Linked DNA regions of Homo sapiens. The protein of the gene in region 2 interacts with the protein of the main gene of each other region in a biochemical or structural test. Each region holds a gene or a part of one and is shown on either strand. Other genes may lie near its edges.

What was found.
Region 1: the proteins of UBXN6 (region 2) and UFD1 form a complex in vitro, tested with the Homo sapiens proteins (one study listed by BioGRID).
Region 3: the proteins of UBXN6 (region 2) and DERL1 form a complex in vitro, tested with the Homo sapiens proteins (one study listed by BioGRID).

The regions. Positions count from the first base shown.
Region 1 is NC_000022.11:19,454,016-19,462,244, forward strand, and holds part of UFD1 (ubiquitin recognition factor in ER-associated degradation protein 1), read right to left. Parts: intron 4,125-8,229; coding exon 4,056-4,124; intron 2,904-4,055; coding exon 2,838-2,903; intron 2,620-2,837; coding exon 2,572-2,619; intron 1,754-2,571; coding exon 1,665-1,753; intron 816-1,664; coding exon 734-815; intron 1-733. UniProt on the Homo sapiens protein: Essential component of the ubiquitin-dependent proteolytic pathway which degrades ubiquitin fusion proteins.
Region 2 is NC_000019.10:4,443,507-4,448,162, forward strand, and holds the end of UBXN6 (UBX domain-containing protein 6), read right to left. Parts: exon of another isoform or gene 4,120-4,656; coding exon 4,044-4,119; exon of another isoform or gene 3,682-4,043; coding exon of another isoform or gene 3,599-3,681; exon of another isoform or gene 3,415-3,598; coding exon 3,330-3,414; exon of another isoform or gene 3,214-3,329; coding exon 2,994-3,213; exon of another isoform or gene 2,908-2,993; coding exon 2,777-2,907; exon of another isoform or gene 2,692-2,776; coding exon 2,543-2,691; exon of another isoform or gene 2,118-2,542; coding exon 1,992-2,117; 3' UTR 1,500-1,991; downstream 1-1,499. UniProt on the Homo sapiens protein: May negatively regulate the ATPase activity of VCP, an ATP-driven segregase that associates with different cofactors to control a wide variety of cellular processes.
Region 3 is NC_000008.11:123,011,492-123,018,353, reverse strand, and holds the end of DERL1 (derlin-1), read left to right. Parts: intron 1-2,768; coding exon 2,769-2,907; 3' UTR 2,908-5,184; downstream 5,185-6,862. UniProt on the Homo sapiens protein: Functional component of endoplasmic reticulum-associated degradation (ERAD) for misfolded lumenal proteins. Forms homotetramers which encircle a large channel traversing the endoplasmic reticulum (ER) membrane.

The DNA.
Region 1 (8,229 bases), on a different chromosome or scaffold from region 2:
GGATGCTCAGCCCTTGCCTTCCTCTGTCCCGCCACCACCCTGCTCAGCTAGAAGGTGCTGCCTATATTTGAAGTTCAAGGTCTCTGTTGGAAGACGAAGCCCACCCAGGGCACACAGTTCTGTGATAACAGAGCCTGGAGTCGGCTCTAGAGCAAGACAGAGCTCCTGACCCCCATGCTGCAAGTCTTCTGTTTCATACACCCTACACCAGCTCTACAGAAAAAAACAGGACACCAGGGAGCAGAGGGACCCTAGGAAAGGGAAAACATGACAGACACCCTCATGTGGTTTGGCTGCGTCCCCACCCAAATCTCATCTTGAATTACCACGTGTTGTGGGAGGGACCAGGTGGGAGGTAACTGAGTCGGTGGGAGGTAACTGAGTCATGAGGGCGGGTCTTTTCCGTGCTGTTATCATGATAGTGAATAAGTCTCATGAGATCTGATGGTTTTATAAGTAGGTGTTTCCCTGCACCAGCTTTTTCTCTGCCTGCTACCATCCATGTAAGATGTGACTTGCCCCCTGCCATGATTGTGAGGCCTCCCCAGCCATGTGAACTGTAAGTCCATTAAACCTCTTTCTTTTGTAAATTGCCCAGTCTCGGGTACATCTTTACCAGCAGCTTGGAAACAGACTAATGCACACCCCTACTCAGAATGCCAAGAACTTCAGTCATCACTAGCAAATAAATCTCCTCATTACCAACCAAGGAAATACAAGGAAATACACTCACCTCTTCAACCTTTTTGACAAGGGGACGTGAATTTCTGATGAAAGTTATCTTACCAAGTTTAAATTCATAATTGGGAATTCCTCTGTAAGAAGAGACAGAGACAGAGAAATGTTATTTCCAGGAAAAAAGGACTAAAATTCATTTTTGACAGTCAAGAGGAACGCAGAAAAGATGCTGCTGCACCCCACCTGGGCCCTTTGGTGCTTCCTGGCATCCTCCCAGGAGGGAAGCAGAAAGTAACTGACTTCTTGGTTTGGTATCAATATTGGGTATAGGGCCAGGGGCTTTAGGCTCTGTACCTGTCTATGGAGAGGGGTCATCTGAAGGATTGGGAAGCCCTCACTGTCACTGTCCTGAGCTTCACAGAACCCCCTGAGGTGGCTAGACTCTCACTCCAGTATTCTGATTTCACACACACAACAGACAACTGACACACCTCAGCCCTGCCCCTGCCATCATGGCCACCAGAGGAAGGGTCTGCTGTGGGTCCCCGGACCCAGCAACAGAAGCACATCTGAGGTAGCTCCTCAGGGAACTTTCAGGGGAACTGAGATAATGTGACCTGATTAATAATTCCAAGTCACAAAACAGGAAAATAGGCAGATCACCAAATAGGGACCAGAAAGGTTTTGAGTAAGAGACAGATCTAATCAGACTCGCATCTTAGGAAAGCCAGTGGGGGCAAGAAGAGGCTGAATTGGGGGTATGGAGAGGTATGGAGAGAGGCTGGACCACAGTGGTACTGGGGGTGGCACTGTGGAAGGAGGGGCATGTTGTGCTCCACCCCACCAAGGAGAGCAGCTAAGGGTTTTAGTCCCTTGGGAGACTACTGACCCAGGCTTTGTCTCCAGAACTGGGGTGAGGCTGCCCGACCCCAGCGGGCTGGCACAGATCCTCCTCCTGTCCTGGAGGAGAGCCAGGACAGACCTACCTTTTAATATCTCCAGGCTTGATTGGGGAGGGGCTGGGCTCTACCCCTTTCTTCTTTCCATCCAGTCTATTGCCAGATCCAGAGAAAGCCTAGACAGGAAGTAGGTGAGTCATATAATAAGCCCAAGTGTGAGGACGATATGTCCTTTGCTTGGAGATCACTGCAGGGATGTGAGCTGGGGGTGCTGTGCAGACCCCTTCAGGACTGAAGCCCTGACTCCTCAACTGCTGGGGTGCTGGCAGCTAAGAACTCTGCCCAGTTCCTCAGGGGGTGGCCATGAGCTGAAGACAGCCACTTGGCCAAGGGCAGCCAGCAGTCAGTGTTGGGTTAAAAGACCTGATCCCTGCCTCTGCAGGGCCACCCAGTTCAAGCTCTATGGGTGGGCTAAGGCTACTGTTGTGACTGCCCCATAGCTCAGCTTCCCATCATTCTGCCCTCTCTGCTGCTTCCTGGCACCTCCTGCCACCTCAGTGCCCACACATGAACCACCTCCACCTGTTTCCCATGGAGCCTTGCCAGTAGTTATGCTAAGGGTCATGTTTGCAACCTACATGGTACAGGCAAAGAAAAAAGGAAACATGATTTACAAGAGAGAGAAAGCAAATGTGGTAACTTTTGGTGAACCTAAGGGAACAGTATATGTCTACTGTACTATTTAAACTCTTCGGTAGGTTAGAAATTCTTAAAAATCTGGGCTGCCTTATGGGGCTGTTGGGAAGATTCCAGGAGAGAGTGGATACAAAAGGGTTTGGTAACTGAGCGAGTGGCAGATTTGCATATGCACAGGTACCCAGAGGCCTAACCCCTGCTGATGTCCATCGAGCATCATGGAGAACACCTTGAGTGAGTGCTCTAATTTCAAGGAGCAGAGGGCACAGCAATATAAGTCAAGTGGTCTGGTACTCACGCGGAAGCCCAGCTCTCCAGCATAGCCACTGTGGTCGGCTTCACCTTCCTGACAGGGAAAAAGAAAAACAGGTGAGCTCCTCAGCGGGGACACCCAGCTTCCCTCTCACCCCCACCCCCGGCTAGGATGTCCCCCGGAAGCATGGCTGGAAGGGACGCAGAGGATATGACTACACCAACACTAGCAGAGGCCACCCACGAGCCACTGCCAGGAACTCAAAAGCAGCATGCAGCAGGACAGCAAAGGACACTGAGGATAACACTTACTGTCGACTCCTCATGCTGGACTTGTCTTTCGGGTTCTTTGTAGCCCAGGGGAGCATCAAAGTCCACCTGTGTTTCCAGGATTTTAAAAGTAAAATATTGAGACATGACCACCCTTGGCTTCCTTTTTTGTTTTTAATTGAGACAACTGTAGATTCACATGCAGTTTTAAGAAATAATACAAAAGATGCCTTGTACACTTGCCCAGTTTTCCCAACGGTAGCATCTTACAAAATTACAGTAAAGTATTGCTGCCAGGATATCAACACTGGCACAACCCACTGCTCTTATTCAGATTTCCCCAGTTTTACATGTTTTTGTTCATGGGTATCTTTAGTTCTACACAATGTAATCACTGTGTGGGGCATGTATCCACCACAGTTGAGATGTAGAACAGTTTCACCACCACTAGGACTGCCCATGTTGTCTTTTTATAACCATACCCAGCTGTCTCCCAGCCCCCTCCACCAGTCCTAAGCCCTGGCAACCACTGGTCTGTCTTCCATTTCGAAAGTTCTGTCACTTTGAGGATGTTATATAACGAAGTAACTTTTTGGGATTGGCTTTTTTTGCTCAGCAGTATTCCCTAGTAATACAACCAGGATGCTGTGTGCATCAGCACTTCATTCCTACTCAGAAGGTTCAGTACGCTTCCTTAGCTCTTAAGCATATTCACTCCTCGGCCAGGCGCGGTGGCCCACACCTGTAATCTCAGCACTTTGGGAGGCCGAGGCGGGTGGATTACCTGAGGTCAGGAGTTTGAGACCAGCTTGGCCAACATGGTAAAACCCTGTCTCTACCAAAATACAAAACTAGCCGGGCCTGGTGGCACATGCCTGTAATCCCAGCTACTCGGGAGGCTGAGGCAGGAGAATCGCTTGAACCTGGGAGGTGGAGGTTGTAGTGAGCCAAGATCGCACCACTGCACTCCAGCCTGGGCAACAGGAGTGAAACTAAGTCTCAAAAAAAAAAAGAATATTCACTCCTCAACGGGTCAGAGCTAACCATGGCAGCACTGGCAGCAAACTCTGTTGCCCCAACTGGCCCTGAGATAGATCACAAGGTCACAGTCTCCTCATGATGTTCTGACAGCATCTTCCTCCTCTTTACCCAGAGTCCCAGGGGCTGTTTGATGCCCTCCTGACACCCTGGCCTGCAGTGGTCACCAACTGCCCATCCTCCCAGGGCCCAGGCTCACTGTAACTGGACAGAGCCACTCACGTTCATGTCACACTCAATGATGGACACTGCCTTGTCGGGTTTGGTCTCCATCACACGCAGTTCGTAGATCTGTGGGGCAAACACAGAAATCAGTTGGATGGTTTCCTGGCAGCACTGGAGCTGTCGCTGTCCATGTTACTGTGGCTCTACTGGCTCCTGCGAATGACACAGCATTCATGCCCATGACACAACCTACAGCTGCACTTCTTGCTGTGACAACACTGCCATAAGGGACAGGCTGCCCTGTGCCCATCGCTGAAGAGATGCTGTTCCCCAGATATGGTTCAAATTAGACAAGGTAGTTATACAGCTAACTGCAAAAGACACTAACAACCTTTAACCTGGAAAGTTCACTTCTGGAACTTTACTATTTATTTTATTTATTTATTTTTAGACAGAATCTCGCTCTATCGCCCAGGCTGGAGTGCAGTGGTGCGATCTTGGCTCACTGCAACCTCCGCCTCCAGGGTTCAAGCACTTCTCCTGCCTCAGCCTCCCTAGTAGCTGGGACTATAGGCATGTGCCACTACACCTGGCTAATTTTTGTATTGTTGTAGAGATGGGGTTTCACCATGTTGGCCAGGCTGGTCTCGAACTCCTGACCTCAGGTGATCCGCCCACCTCGGCCACACAAAGAACTGGGATTACAGACATAAGCCACCGCACTCGGCCTTCGAAATTTATTCTAAGTAAATAACTAGCTATACCCAATGAGAAAATTCTAAGAATGCTCATACCAACGTCACTAATACCACTGTACAGATGCTCCTTGACTTATGATGGAACCAAGTCCCATAAACTTATAAGTTAAAAATGTATTAATATTCCTAACCTACCAAACATCATAGTGCAGCCTGCCTTAACCATTCTCAGAACACATACATTAGCCTACAGTTGGGCAAAATCATCTACTATAAAGCTTATTTTATAATAAAATGTTGAATAACTCATGTAATTTATTGAATACTGTACTGAAGATCAAAAACAGAATGGTTGTATAGGTATTCAAAGTATGGTTTTTACTGAATGTGTATCATGTTTGCATCATAATAAAGTTGAAAAATTCTAGGTAGAACCATGGTCAGGGACTGTCTGTATACTCAAAATGCAGCTGAATTATATTTCTTCATATGTAAATTTACAGTTATACAATGGTATGCTACGCAGCCAACAGGAAAATAATTGTAAAACCAGTCATGTTGCTTGTGTCTAAGATGACCTCACCTATGTAAAAAAGGCACATAAAAAATGTCCAGAAGCAGGGCCGTGCGTGGTGGCTCACGCCTGTAATCCCAGCACTTTGGGAGGCCGAGGAGGGCAGATCACGAGGTCAGGCAAATGAGACCATCCTTGCTAACATGGTGAAGACCCGTCTCTACTAAAAAATACAAAAAATTAGCTGGGAGTGGTGGCAGGTGCCTGTAGTCCCAGCTATTCGGGAGGCTGAGGCAGGAGAATGGTGTGAACCCAGGAGGTGGAGCTTGCAGTAAGCTGAGATCGGGCCACTGCACTCCAGCCTGGGCAACAGAGCGAGACTCTGTGTCAAAAACAAACAAACAAACAAGCAAACAAACAAACTCCAGAAGCATAGAAATTAAAAGTGGCCCTATCTACTTTTTCCTGCATCATTTCAGGTTCTTTGCTTTTATCTAAAGTCTGTCTTGCTTTTTTTTTTTTTTTTTTTTCGAGATGGAGGCTCGCTCTGGCACCCAAGCTGGAGTGCAATGGTATGGTCTTGGCTCACTGCAACCTCCGCCTCCCGGGTTCCAGCGATTCTCTTGCCTCAGCCTCCCAAGTAACTGGGACTACAGGTGCGTGCCACCACACCCAGCTAATTTTTGTGTTTTTAGTAGAGATGGTGTTTCACTATGTTGGCCAGGCTGGTCTTGAACTCCTGACGTTGTGATCCACCCGCCTCAGCCTCCCAAAGTGCTGGGATTACAGGCATGGGCCACCATGCCCGGCCAGTATGTCTTGCTTTTACAACCATTTTAAAAAGTCTGGATAGTCCCACCATTTAAAAAAAAAACCTAAGCAGGGCCAAATCTACTTTTAAAAGTGTCATAATTATTGAATAGATAAGGAATAAAAAAAGGATCTGTCATTGTGTGGATATACTACCACTTATCCACTGAGCATCCGGCCTGTTTCCAATCATTTTGCTGTGTTAATGACACTACTATAAACATTCAAACATGTCTCCTAGGGCTTGGCTCATGCTTCTCTACCGTTTTCATGTTTTCAAAAGGCCACAAATAATCAGTGGGTCATAAAACCAACAGGGCTGCAAGCAGAACTGAAAAGGAAAGAATTGGAAGACAGTACCCTAGAAGTACTATTGCATTTAGTAAGGATAAATATTCCTGTGACATTTTCCATTTACTTTTATGTATTGGCATAATATTAAATACTTTTTTTTTAAACTATGGGACCAATTTTCTAGGTTGGTGCTCCTCAAACTACCTGGGAAGACCTAGTTTTTAAAAATGTGCAGTCTGCTGGACTGCCATGTGGTCCTCCTGCACAGAAGCAAGACACAACACACACCAGACGCCCAGAGCTCACCAAGACAAGTACTGGTTCTGTGGCCATGTGTGTGGAGGTTATGACAATGCCAAATTACTATACGTTTCTAAACATTCACTTTTGATTCCTGCTTCCTCGAGGCCCTGGCAACCACCATTCTTTTTTTTTTTTTTTTTCCCTTGAGGCAGGGTCTTGCTCAGTCCCCCAGGCTGGAGTGCAGTGCCTTGACCCTGGCTCACTGCAGACTCAACTGATCCTCCCGCCTCAGCCTCCTGAATAGCTGTAACTAGGCACATGCCACTACGCCCAGCTAATTTTAAAATTTTTTCATTAATTTTTTGTAGTGACAGGATCACACTATGTTACCCAGGCTACTCTCAAACTCCTGGGCTCAAACAATCCTCCAACCTTGGCCTCCCAAAGTGCTGGGATGCCAGGTGTGAACCACGGTGTCCAGGTGATTCTACTTTCTGTCTCCCATGAGTTTGACTACTCTAAGTACTCATGTAAGCGGAATGTAGTATTTGTCTGTCTGCATCTGGTTTATTTCACTGAGCAGAATGTTCATCCATGTGGTAGCATGTGTCAGAATTCCCTTCCTTTTTAATGTTGAATAATATTACATTGTATGTGTGTACCACATATTATTTACCCATTCATCTGCAATTTATTTTTGACTATGGTATGAGTTAGGAACTCAATTTGTTTTTTCATCTTAGGAATAGTCAATATCCCAGATTCCGCAACCCCAGTATCTCCTTTGCCTGGTGACATCAATGCTGCCTCAGTGGTGGACCAAGATTCTTTGTATATAAAGCTTTCTTCCACTGGCCTACTTGTCTACTCCAGAACCAATGCCATATGGTGTCTTAACTACTGGAGCTTTATTACACTCAGCTGCCGTATAGAATCTTCCTTATATATGACCAGATTCTTTTGTCAATATTTTATCTACAATCTATGTATCTGTATCAAGTGACAATGATCTGTAGTTTACCTTTCTCCTATCCTTGTGTGGTTTTGGTGATCAAGGTTATGCCGACCTCAGAGAATGAGTTGGGGGATATGTTCTTTCTCTATTTTTAGAATATCTAAGAGCAATTTATTGCTTGAGTGTGAGGAAGAACTTGCATATATAACCATCTGGGCCTGTGTTTCCTGGATTAAGATTTTTCTGATTGAATTACTTGACTGGCTATACAATTATTTAGGCTGTTTGTTTTTTTTTTTCTTTAGTCAAACTTCAATTACACTTTTCTCTAGGAAATAATTTATCAATGTCAAATAAGTTGGCTCATTTCTTAGTATAAAATTTTTCACAGTTTTATCTTTCAAGATATTTGCTTTATCTAATTCATTTTATTTGTTTTTAAACATTCAATATGCATGTAGACTTTTCAGGGTTTGCTTTTTTTTTGTTTGAGGCAAGGTCTTGCTTTATCACCTAGGCTAGAGTGCAGTGGCACGGTCACTGTTCACTGCAACTTCTGCCTCCCGGACTCAAGTGATCCTCCCACTTCAGCCTCCCAGGTAGCTGGGACTACAGGTGCATGCCACCATGCCCAGCTAATTTTTGTATTTTTTGTCGAGATGGGGTTTTGCCATGTTGCCCAGTCTGGTCTCAAACTCCTGGACTTAAGTGATCCAC
Region 2 (4,656 bases):
AACAGCACCGTCCCATCTGTTTGTCACTAAGTCACCCTCATACCAGGCTGACCTGGGTCAAGGTGCGGGTTTTTCCGCACGTGCTTCTGTCCGGCGATCCCTCCTGCCCTGGGTTGGGGGGTTAGGAGAGGGTGTTCCCAGAGACCTGCTAGGGTCACCTCCCTGAACCCGGAGCTGCTGGGAGCCGAGTTTGGCTTCGAGTCTGAGGCTTTGTGAGAGCCCACCCCAGGTCAGGTGCATCTTTTGCGAGTGCTGGAGCTAGAAGGTGACCTCCTCCCCGCCCCAGGTTGAGTGGGCTTTATCCACACTGTCCGAGGGAGGACAGGCGACAGCCGCTGTGGTACTGAGCAGCTCAGAGCACACGCAGCCACGGGGAGGGTCACGCTCGCCAGTCCTGCTCTTCCCAGCCACACCCCACCTGAAGTCCTAAGCTTCCCTTCAGGGAACCCTATGTGGGAAAAGTGTCAGCTACCTCCATCCACCCAGTCAGGGACGGCAGGGCGCCCGGGCCAGGCCTTCCTGCTGGGAAGCAGGATTCAGCTGTGCCTGAAGCAGAGGCTGCCCCTGTGCCACACCTTTGATGAGCTTTACAGGGGCTCCCGACAACCCGGAATCAGGTCCTGGGGCCTGCAGGACGCAGGACTGGAGTGACAGCCTCCATTCTCAACAGGCCGGGTGCCCACACCAGCTGGGGCAGTGCCGGGGGCGAGGGAGGGACCAATGCAAGGTCAGGGGCACGAGCATAGGCCCCGGGCACCTCCCCCAGGTGCAGACCTGCATCCCCAAGTCAGCAGTGGGGCCGGGGCACACATGCCTTCCACACTGCAGGGCAGAGTCCCTGTGTCTCCTGGGGCTGCTGTACCACAAACCTGGTGGCTTAAAGCAAGTCACCATCTCACAGCTTGGGGGTCAGAGTGCACACATGCCCCGCCAGGCTAACATCAAGCTGTGGGCAGGACCAGGCCCTCCTGGAGAGTTTCCCAGTGCTCGGAGGCGCTGCATCCCTCAGCTCGGGGTCCCTTCCTCCACCTTCACAGCCATGCGCAGCCTCTTCCAGTCTCTCTCTGATTCACCCTCCTGCCACCTCTTGTGAGGACACTGGGTCCCGGACCACCCAGGATCATCTCCCAGCTCAAGACCTTTCATCATACCCAAGCCCCTCTTGCCAGGTGAAGTTGCGCATCTGCAGGTTCCAGGAATAGGATGTGGCCGTCTCAGGACACCCTGTCCCTCTGGCCACAGGGAAGCCAGGCCTGTGACAGCACTCGCCTCCCCTGCAGGGACTGGGCCTTTGTGGGCACAGCACAGCCTCCCCTAGCGCACGGGACTTCCTCCCCAGGTGGGTGGCTCATCGGGCACTTGTGGCCAGGTGCTGGCCTGAGAACAGGTATCCACATGGTCCCACCTTGACAGGGAGCCACACCCAGCCCCCAAGCCATCCGCTCTTCAGCAGGTGGGCCTGCCCTGTGTCCCACGGTTTCAACGGAGAACCAAGAAACTATATTCAAACAACCTGTTTATTTGGGCTTATGATTTACTAACTGCAGGTCTATGTGCAGGAAGGCCAGCATCCCCTCCTGCCGTTGTCACCCACATCCACAGAGCAGCCCTAGTGCCAGGTGCAGCCACTGCCACCCACGGCACACGGGAACAGGACCCATGCTGCAGGCCTGCTCTCCTGCCCAGGGAGATGCCACGTGTGTCTGTCCGGCAGCTTCATGACACAGTTACCAAGCAGCTAGGGAGGGCTTAGATTTGTTGGTGTCCCCAGGCCTCTCCCTCGGGGGCTTGGGCGCATCCCCACAGCCCCCAAGGGATGGGGGCTCTGCCACGGGGCCCAATTCCACAGCTCCACGGCTGGCGCCCCTCCCGTGCCCATGGGGCAGAGCCAAGTATTTCCAGAGGTGGCTTGGAGGCCCTGGGGTGGCGGGGAGAGGAACAGGGAGAGCATGAGACAGACCCACAGGGCTGAGGCCAACCCTGCTTTTATTTCACAAGAGCTTCTCGATGGCTGACAGGAGCTCGGGTTTCAGGATGGAGTCCGGCTCGGCCCCCGCGGCCTTGATGTCCTCCAGCACAGCCATGTCCCACGAGAAGGTCAGGAGGGCAGAGGGCACCTGCGGTAGGGGTAGGCCGTCACTCTGAGACCGAGAGTCGGCCCTTGCCGCGGCAGGGAACTCAGCGGGCAACCTGGGCGCGGGGATGCCCCGGCCTGGAAGCCATCTCAGCTGGTGGAGGCTGTGGCTCGCACCCAGGCCTCCTGCCCTCTCCCTCCGGGACTCCAGGACCTAAGCCTAAACCTACTGCACTAGCTAACGCACGTCACCGCTCCCATTTGATGGGGAAACTGAGGCGTGGAGTAGTTATGAACTTGCTCGAGGCCCTGCTGCCAGTAAGTGGGAAAGCAGGATTCAAACCCAGGGACCTGCCCAGGCCCCCTGCTCTGAGAACAAGGAGGCTCCCTCCTGGGGGTGTCTGTGCCGGTCCCAGGAGAACCTGCAGAGGCATCGGGTCAGCGGTGCTCCTGCGGGCCGACACTCACCAGCCCGCACTCGTTCAAGGCCAGGTTCTCGTCCTCGGACAGCTTCTGCCCTCCCGAGGCCAGCAGCTCAAAAGGCAGCCAGTCGCTCTGCAGGGCCTCCCGGACGAACCCGTACACCGCCCCCAGCCGCTCCCGAGCGTAGAAAGTGCCTGGGGAGTGGGGGAGTCAGAGCGGGTGGGGCCCAGGGCCCCCTACCAACCCGAGCCGCCCTCCACGGGCATCGTTGGTGCCCACCCTGCAGGAGGCAGCCATCGGGGAGGCGCACGCGCAGCAGCGTGTAGTTGTACTTGCGCAGCCCCCGCTGCTCCTCCTTCTCCCGCATGGCCTTGGTCCGCAGCACGCTCAGCCGCTCCACCGCCTCGGACCTGCACACGCGGGCCAGGTCACGAGGGCTGGCCGGGGTTCTTCCACCCCGCCCCGCCCCACTCTGCTCCGCGGACGTCAGGCCCACCTGAGCCTCTGCTCCCGCTTGATCTCCTCTGCTGTGAGGTTGAAGAAGTCCCCAGGCAGTTCGAACTGCGAGGCCAGGGGCGAGGGCTGGAAGACGCGGCGCTGCCTGTCCAGCTTGGCGCGCACGGGCTCCGCAGCCAGCAGCTGTTCCTTGTGCCTCTCCAGGCTCTGGGGCTGGGCCAAGGTGGTCTCGCTCAGCACGTAGAACTCCTCGGGGTCCTCTACAGCGTGGCAGGACATGGGTGTCACTGTGCAATGGAGAGACCCCCAAGCCGGGCCCTCCTGCCCCGAGGCCCCTCGTCCCCATTCCCTACTCAGCCAGGCCCTGTCCACTTACCCTGATCCTGGGCGGGAAGCAACACCTTCTGGAACCCAATGGCCTCAAAAAACTCGTGGGTCCCTTCCAGGCAGTTAATGCGCTCCTGGGGGTGGAGATGGGCGTCACTGGGGGCCCCTGGCTTCCTCCATGGCCTGGCCACACCCCACCCAGTCCAGGGGCCCGGCTCTCGCTATTGGGAGCAGCTGTCGACCCCTGGATGGGGCCCAGCCCTGGGGGTGCCTCAGTGCTGGATGCAAACCTGCTTTTCTACGGTGGGGGCTGTGGAGTCTCCAACAGCTCTGCACAGAGGAAAGAGTCACAACCAGGCACGAAGAGTGAGGCTGAGGAGCCAGACACTGCTGGGGCCTGATGCGAGGCTAACACCGCCCAGGACCCCAGTCCCTGCCCTTTCCCCCAGAAGAACCAGACATCTGGTTTGCATGAGAAACCTCCCCAGAGTCGACATGTTCCCAAACAAGCCCAGCTGAAGAGGAGGAAAAGGATGCAGGTGAGGAGAGGCAGAATTTGTTGATTTGGGGTGACCGGTGCATAAAAGTCTTGCTCTCCATCTTGTCCTGCTACCTTCTACTGGCCGAACCCTTCACTGCTTGTGGCTCAACTCTCGCTAGCTCCTCCAGGGAGCCCACCGCCTGGTGTGGGCCACCACCGGCTCCTGCAGGCCAGCTGCCCCCACCCCCAGCCTGGGCCCCGGGGGCCAGAAGGCACGCCCACCTGAAACACCTTGTTCTGCAGCTTGATCTTCCGGTACTTCTCCTCCTCGGGGTGCAGGTGGATGTTGTCCAGGTACCTGGGGTAGGTGGAGAAGGTGAGTGGGGCACAGCCCAGGCTGCCCACCCGGCCCCTCTGTGCCTCCTGCTCCAGGTAACAGCAGCTCAGCCACACTTGGCCTCTAGTCAGAGGGAAGAAGCGGCCCAGTGACGCGAGGGCAGCAGACCATCTCCGGGTGGAAGGCACACCTCGGACACCCCATGGAGCCCACCCCTGGTGCCAGCAGGAGCCCCACGGAACCCCTCACCGTCCCACCAGCCCTGGAAGGGCACAATTAACCACAGCGGTGGGGAAGCCACAGTGCCGGAAGAGTGGAGAGCCAGAGCTGAAGGGCCGCAGTGCCAGCAGGGGGCTCCTGCGGGGTGCTCCCTCGGCGTTGGCGGGCAGCGTGGACCTCCAGGCCTGCCCCCGATCCTGAGACCCGGGGAGTGGGGTGGGACCCTGCCTCCTCCACATGTTCCCCAAGGAAGCCAGGGTGGGAAACCCCTGATTCCTTCAACACCTTCATTTTGCACACGGGTAAACTGAGGCCCAAGGAGGCCCAGCCCTTTGCCTG
Region 3 (6,862 bases), on a different chromosome or scaffold from region 2:
CACACCCAGAAGCATGTAATAGTCGTGTGACCGTTCTGTCAGTGAGGCAAAAGGCTGTCGAAGAACGGGCCAGTTAAATCACCATCTGGGTGTCACAGCCTGCCTGACAATCATGCCTAATCTCATATCAGGGATATGCAGTAATAGCTTGCATTTGAAAGCTTTAAAAAAACAAACAAACCAAACCCTTCCACATCTTGCTAATTTTAATGTTTTGCAGTTCTGTCATTCCTCTAAGGGATCAGTGAGGGCAGTAAAACTTGAGCAGGCCTCCTCTTTCTCCCCTTCCTTTTATAGGGTAGGGGTATGTTTTTCAAAGACTTTTCAAATTGTGAACTGTAATATACAGAGATATACCATATTGGTGGTTGTGGTGTGTGTGTTTTTCTTTAAGAGAATAAAAAGAAACTTGTTTCTCTTCTGAGCCTTGAATTGCCTTCAGGCTAAAAAAACAAATGACCAATCTGGTTTCTAATTATCAAAGGACATAATAACAGCAGGTTTGGCTTTCTGATCTAGGTTTATCAAGTAGGATGGCAGATGCATCAATTAAAAAAAGCTTGGTGCTTTTGGGGGGCAGCCAACAGTTACTTTACTTTAAATGGCCATATTCTAACTTAACGGCTTGTAGCTACTTCTCAGTTGTGGGCAACACAGGATACAAGATTCTAGTGGCAAAATCAGCGAGCCCTGGAGCCTGCCTTCCACTTGAACTTTCTCTGTTGGGGGAAGTCCTTCTGCTAAATTTTGCATAAAGATCAGATGACAAAATACAGCTCCTTGCAAAAGCAGTAACTGCTTTGAAATTACCATAAATTTTTGTTGATTATGTATAATTGGGTATCTTTTTATACTAATTATTTGCATTTAATTTCACTATCTACTTAAGCAGTGGAGATGGCTTCCATATTGTCTTAGAGTGAGTAGCAAAGCAAGACAGCCCTAGCATTTTCTCCAGCAAGTGTTCTATTTTATTATGTACTTTGGAGGAATATTATTGTACCAGAAGGCATGGATGTTGAGAAACCAGCACTTGGAAAATACATTTTGATTTAATGGTAAAGCTGTATTTGTTTAAAATGGAGGAGGTGAGTATAGGAAGGTATAACTGCTTTTCTAAATGGAATGCTGATACATTTGTATCACCATTTTCCATTCCATTTAGAGTAGTTATATCTTCTCTGTACACACTAAATTTTGTGTTTAAAAGGGGTTTTTGGCCAGGCGTGGTTGCTCACGTCGGTAATCCCAGCATTTTGGGAGGCCGACGGGTGGATCACGAGGTCAGGAGATCGAGACCATCCTGGCTAACATGGTGAAACCCTGGCTCCACTAAAAATACAAAAATTAGCTGGACATGGTAGCGGGCGCCTGTTGTCCCAGCTACTCGGGAGGCTGAGGCAGGAGAATTGCTTGAACCCGGGAGGTGGAGGTTGCAGTGAGCTGAGATCATGCTACTGCACTCCAGCCTGGTGACAGAGTGAGACTCCGTCTCAAAAAAAAACAAAAAAACAAAAACCCGAGTTGTTGTCTGTTTTGGGAAGAGGCATGAAGGTATCGAGTATGATGTAAACAGACTCCAGTCACTGACTGCTGTCCCTTCCCAGGCAGGATGCATGTAGTATAACAAGTAGTGCAGGGCGCAGGCTCTGGAACCAGGCTGACTAGGTTGGAATCCTGTCACTTTCGAAGCGCTTCACTCAGTGTTGGCTCAATTTTCTTGTTTATAAAACAGGAGTAATAGTAATGCCTACCTCATGGGGTTATTGTGAAGATCAGATGAATTTATAAGCAGGCAGCACCTAGTGTAAGGCAATAATCACTGAGTAAATTCACATAGTAACTGCTCTAGTATAAGGTCAAGTATAAAGCCTGTCCTCTTCAGGGTTTCTGCTGTGGACAAGTCACCTGTCATGACTTACTCTTGCTGCCAAGAAGGGTTTAAGCGGAGGTATCAGATCATGCTCTCTGCCTTCAAGCAAAATTTTAAACATTAGGATCTGCTAAGTGGAATAGGTTTAAACACATTCTCAGTTTACTAATAAAAGAGTCAAAGATGGGAAATAGTTGGAAAATACTATTGAGAGTGTAGGCTTGGGTTTAAGTTCTCTTAGCTGTTCTGTGAACTCTTAGTTTATTAATTTTAAGGTGGGAAATCATCTAACCGTCTGGGGCCCCAGCTCTCCCACCATCTGTGAGAAGGGAAGAATGTACCTGGAAGGCAGATTCTGAATAAATTTTAAAACATACCCATACTTCCAACATAGAAAGCCTTCTTCCCCTGTCTCCTTTGATGGGCTCAGCTGAGAGCCTTTTAGAAATGCTGTGCAAGGCTCAAACATGCAGGCTGTGGATTTGGCCTTTGAAAGTGAATGTATTTTGTATCCTTTGATCCAGTTTGAGCCATATTTAGATATACCAAGATGCTATCAGTCATTCTTTGGTTGCTGGGCTTGTGGGTGTAATATTTTTGTTTCCATACTGTTCTGCATGGATTACTTTTATAAGCAGAGAAAAAAACGTTCAGAGTGTGAATTTAGCTGAAATCTGAATACATTTAAGAAACATGAAAAACGAATGCCGTCTGTGGTCAGGTCATGGGGCTGAGTACAGAAAAGACAAAGTTAAATAAGACGTCCCTCGCTGCCTTCAACATGACAAGTGCCATGGGAACAGCAGGAGAGGGAGGTGTTCTCGGAGGTCAGATAACTATGTGGAAGTGACTTTGTTCTCTTCTCTCCGTTTGTGTCCCCGTCTTTCTGCACCAGGTACCGCTGGCTGCCCAGTAGGAGAGGAGGAGTATCAGGATTTGGTGTGCCCCCTGCTAGCATGAGGCGAGCTGCTGATCAGAATGGCGGAGGCGGGAGACACAACTGGGGCCAGGGCTTTCGACTTGGAGACCAGTGAAGGGGCGGCCTCGGGCAGCCGCTCCTCTCAAGCCACATTTCCTCCCAGTGCTGGGTGCACTTAACAACTGCGTTCTGGCTAACACTGTTGGACCTGACCCACACTGAATGTAGTCTTTCAGTACGAGACAAAGTTTCTTAAATCCCGAAGAAAAATATAAGTGTTCCACAAGTTTCACGATTCTCATTCAAGTCCTTACTGCTGTGAAGAACAAATACCAACTGTGCAAATTGCAAAACTGACTACATTTTTTGGTGTCTTCTCTTCTCCCCTTTCCGTCTGAATAATGGGTTTTAGCGGGTCCTAGTCTGCTGGCATTGAGCTGGGGCTGGGTCACCAAACCCTTCCCAAAAGGACCCTTATCTCTTTCTTGCACACATGCCTCTCTCCCACTTTTCCCAACCCCCACATTTGCAACTAGAAGAGGTTGCCCATAAAATTGCTCTGCCCTTGACAGGTTCTGTTATTTATTGACTTTTGCCAAGGCTTGGTCACAACAATCATATTCACGTAATTTTCCCCCTTTGGTGGCAGAACTGTAGCAATAGGGGGAGAAGACAAGCAGCGGATGAAGCGTTTTCTCAGCTTTTGGAATTGCTTCGACCTGACATCCGTTGTAACCGTTTGCCACTTCTTCAGATATTTTTATAAAAAAGTACCACTGAGTCAGTGAGGGCCACAGATTGGTATTAATGAGATACGAGGGTTGTTGCTGGGTGTTTGTTTCCTGAGCTAAGTGATCAAGACTGTAGTGGAGTTGCAGCTAACATGGGTTAGGTTTAAACCATGGGGGATGCAACCCCTTTGCGTTTCATATGTAGGCCTACTGGCTTTGTGTAGCTGGAGTAGTTGGGTTGCTTTGTGTTAGGAGGATCCAGATCATGTTGGCTACAGGGAGATGCTCTCTTTGAGAGGCTCCTGGGCATTGATTCCATTTCAATCTCATTCTGGATATGTGTTCATTGAGTAAAGGAGGAGAGACCCTCATACGCTATTTAAATGTCACTTTTTTGCCTATCCCCCGTTTTTTGGTCATGTTTCAATTAATTGTGAGGAAGGCGCAGCTCCTCTCTGCACGTAGATCATTTTTTAAAGCTAATGTAAGCACATCTAAGGGAATAACATGATTTAAGGTTGAAATGGCTTTAGAATCATTTGGGTTTGAGGGTGTGTTATTTTGAGTCATGAATGTACAAGCTCTGTGAATCAGACCAGCTTAAATACCCACACCTTTTTTTCGTAGGTGGGCTTTTCCTATCAGAGCTTGGCTCATAACCAAATAAAGTTTTTTGAAGGCCATGGCTTTTCACACAGTTATTTTATTTTATGACGTTATCTGAAAGCAGACTGTTAGGAGCAGTATTGAGTGGCTGTCACACTTTGAGGCAACTAAAAAGGCTTCAAACGTTTTGATCAGTTTCTTTTCAGGAAACATTGTGCTCTAACAGTATGACTATTCTTTCCCCCACTCTTAAACAGTGTGATGTGTGTTATCCTAGGAAATGAGAGTTGGCAAACAACTTCTCATTTTGAATAGAGTTTGTGTGTACCTCTCCATATTTAATTTATATGATAAAATAGGTGGGGAGAGTCTGAACCTTAACTGTCATGTTTTGTTGTTCATCTGTGGCCACAATAAAGTTTACTTGTAAAATTTTAGAGGCCATTACTCCAATTATGTTGCACGTACACTCATTGTACAGGCGTGGAGACTCATTGTATGTATAAGAATATTCTGACAGTGAGTGACCCGGAGTCTCTGGTGTACCCTCTTACCAGTCAGCTGCCTGCGAGCAGTCATTTTTTCCTAAAGGTTTACAAGTATTTAGAACTCTTCAGTTCAGGGCAAAATGTTCATGAAGTTATTCCTCTTAAACATGGTTAGGAAGCTGATGACGTTATTGATTTTGTCTGGATTATGTTTCTGGAATAATTTTACCAAAACAAGCTATTTGAGTTTTGACTTGACAAGGCAAAACATGACAGTGGATTCTCTTTACAAATGGAAAAAAAAAATCCTTATTTTGTATAAAGGACTTCCCTTTTTGTAAACTAATCCTTTTTATTGGTAAAAATTGTAAATTAAAATGTGCAACTTGAAGGTTGTCTGTGTTAAGTTTCCATGTCCCTGCTCTGCTGTCTCTTAGATATCACATAATTTGTGTAACCAATTATCTCTTGAAGAGCATTTAGGAAGTACCCAGTATTTTTTGCTGGATTAATTCCTGGATGCAGAATTCCTGGGTTTTCATTTTAATGAAGGAGGATGCTTGCTAACTTTGAGTGAGGAGTCATATCTGATTGTAGCATGCTTTATGGCATTTTTATAGCTTCTACCCATGGATCTGAGCCCTGGAACTTTATAAAATTAGTTTAATCCTGTTTCCTCATAAGGCACACACAGACTAGATAGCAGGTGCCATGACATTCCTGAGCCCTTTTTTTTTTTTTTCCTCGAGGGTGAACATCCCAGTCTGTATCTTGGGCCTTCGACAGGCCAACTTCACTCATCACAAGGTGAGGTGACAGGAAGCAGGTTGTATGTATGTCCCTCTTCTATTACTGGGGAAATACTGAAGCAATAGAAAAAGATCCCGCTTATTTAGAAGGACACATTGCCAGTATCATTGTGTTCTAAGCTACCTTTTGAATGACATGGATCTAATAATAGGCAATGTTGCAGTTGCCAACATCTTCGTTTATTGCCAACTCTGTTTCTGAGGTCCCTGCCCCTCTTACACTTTCAGCAGTAACTTAACACTCTGAATAACTAACCTTTGAAAGAAGTTACTCCTTTCTGGACTTTATACTGTTTTTTTCTTAGAAGGCTGGGCTGAGCAAATGGGTTTACTGGCAGTTCACTTGTTTGCCTTCCAGAGTGACTGGTGATCAGAATTGGCCAGGAATACCATGTCCTGTGTTTACTTCTTTCTTAACCCTCCCTCCCACCTTCCCTCCCTGTCCCTCCCTCTTTCTCTCCCTCTCTCCCTCTCTGTCTCTTCTTTCTTTGTTTTTTTGAGACAGGATCTCAGTCTGTCACCCAGGTTGGAGTGTAGTGGCATGATCTCGGCTCGCTGCAACCTCTGCCTCCCAGGTTCAGATGATCCTCCCACCTCAGCCTCCTGAGTAGCTGGGACCACAAGTGTGTGCCACCACACTCGGCTAATTTTTTGTATTTTTGTTCGAGATGGAGTTTCACCATGTGGCCCAGGCTGGTCTTAAACTCCTGAGCTCAGGCAAGTCACCTGCCTCGGCCTCTCAAAGTGCTGGGATTACAGGCCTGAGCCACGGTGCCCAGCCTTTCCCACGATTTATATGTGTGGTTTAAACCTAGGCTCCTTCCCGTACGGTCCCCTTATCTCACATCAACTCTGCTTGTTCCAGTAGGAACGCCGTGTTCGGGGCACACCTGGGCACTGAGCATTAATGTGCCAGGTACTTTATGAAAAAGCCTCCAATTTACGGTTTTTAAAATCTGGCTATACATAAGCATTAAACTTGAGATTTTAAAAAAATGCAGGTATCTTGGCTCATTCCCATTCTACATACTTTTGAAGTTGATTCTGACGTTCAGCTGGATTTGGGAACTTGTGTTTAAACAAACTTGTGAAATAGTATTATCCCCATTTTCCAGATGAGGAAACTTAAGCTTCAAGTCCCTTGATTAAAATCAGGCAGCGGCCAGGTACGGTGGCTCACGCCTGTAATCCCAGCTCTTTGGGAGGCTGAGGTGGGTGGACCTTCTGAGGTTGGGAGTTCGAGACCAGCCTGACCAACATGGAGAAACCCCATCTCTACTAAAAATACAAAAATTAGCTGTGCGTGGTGGCATATACCTGTAATTCCAGCTACTCGGGAGGCTGAGGCAGGAGAATGACTTGAACCCAGGAGGTGGAGGTTGCGGTGAGCCGAGATTGTGCCATTGCACTCCAGCCTAGGCAACAAGAACAAAACT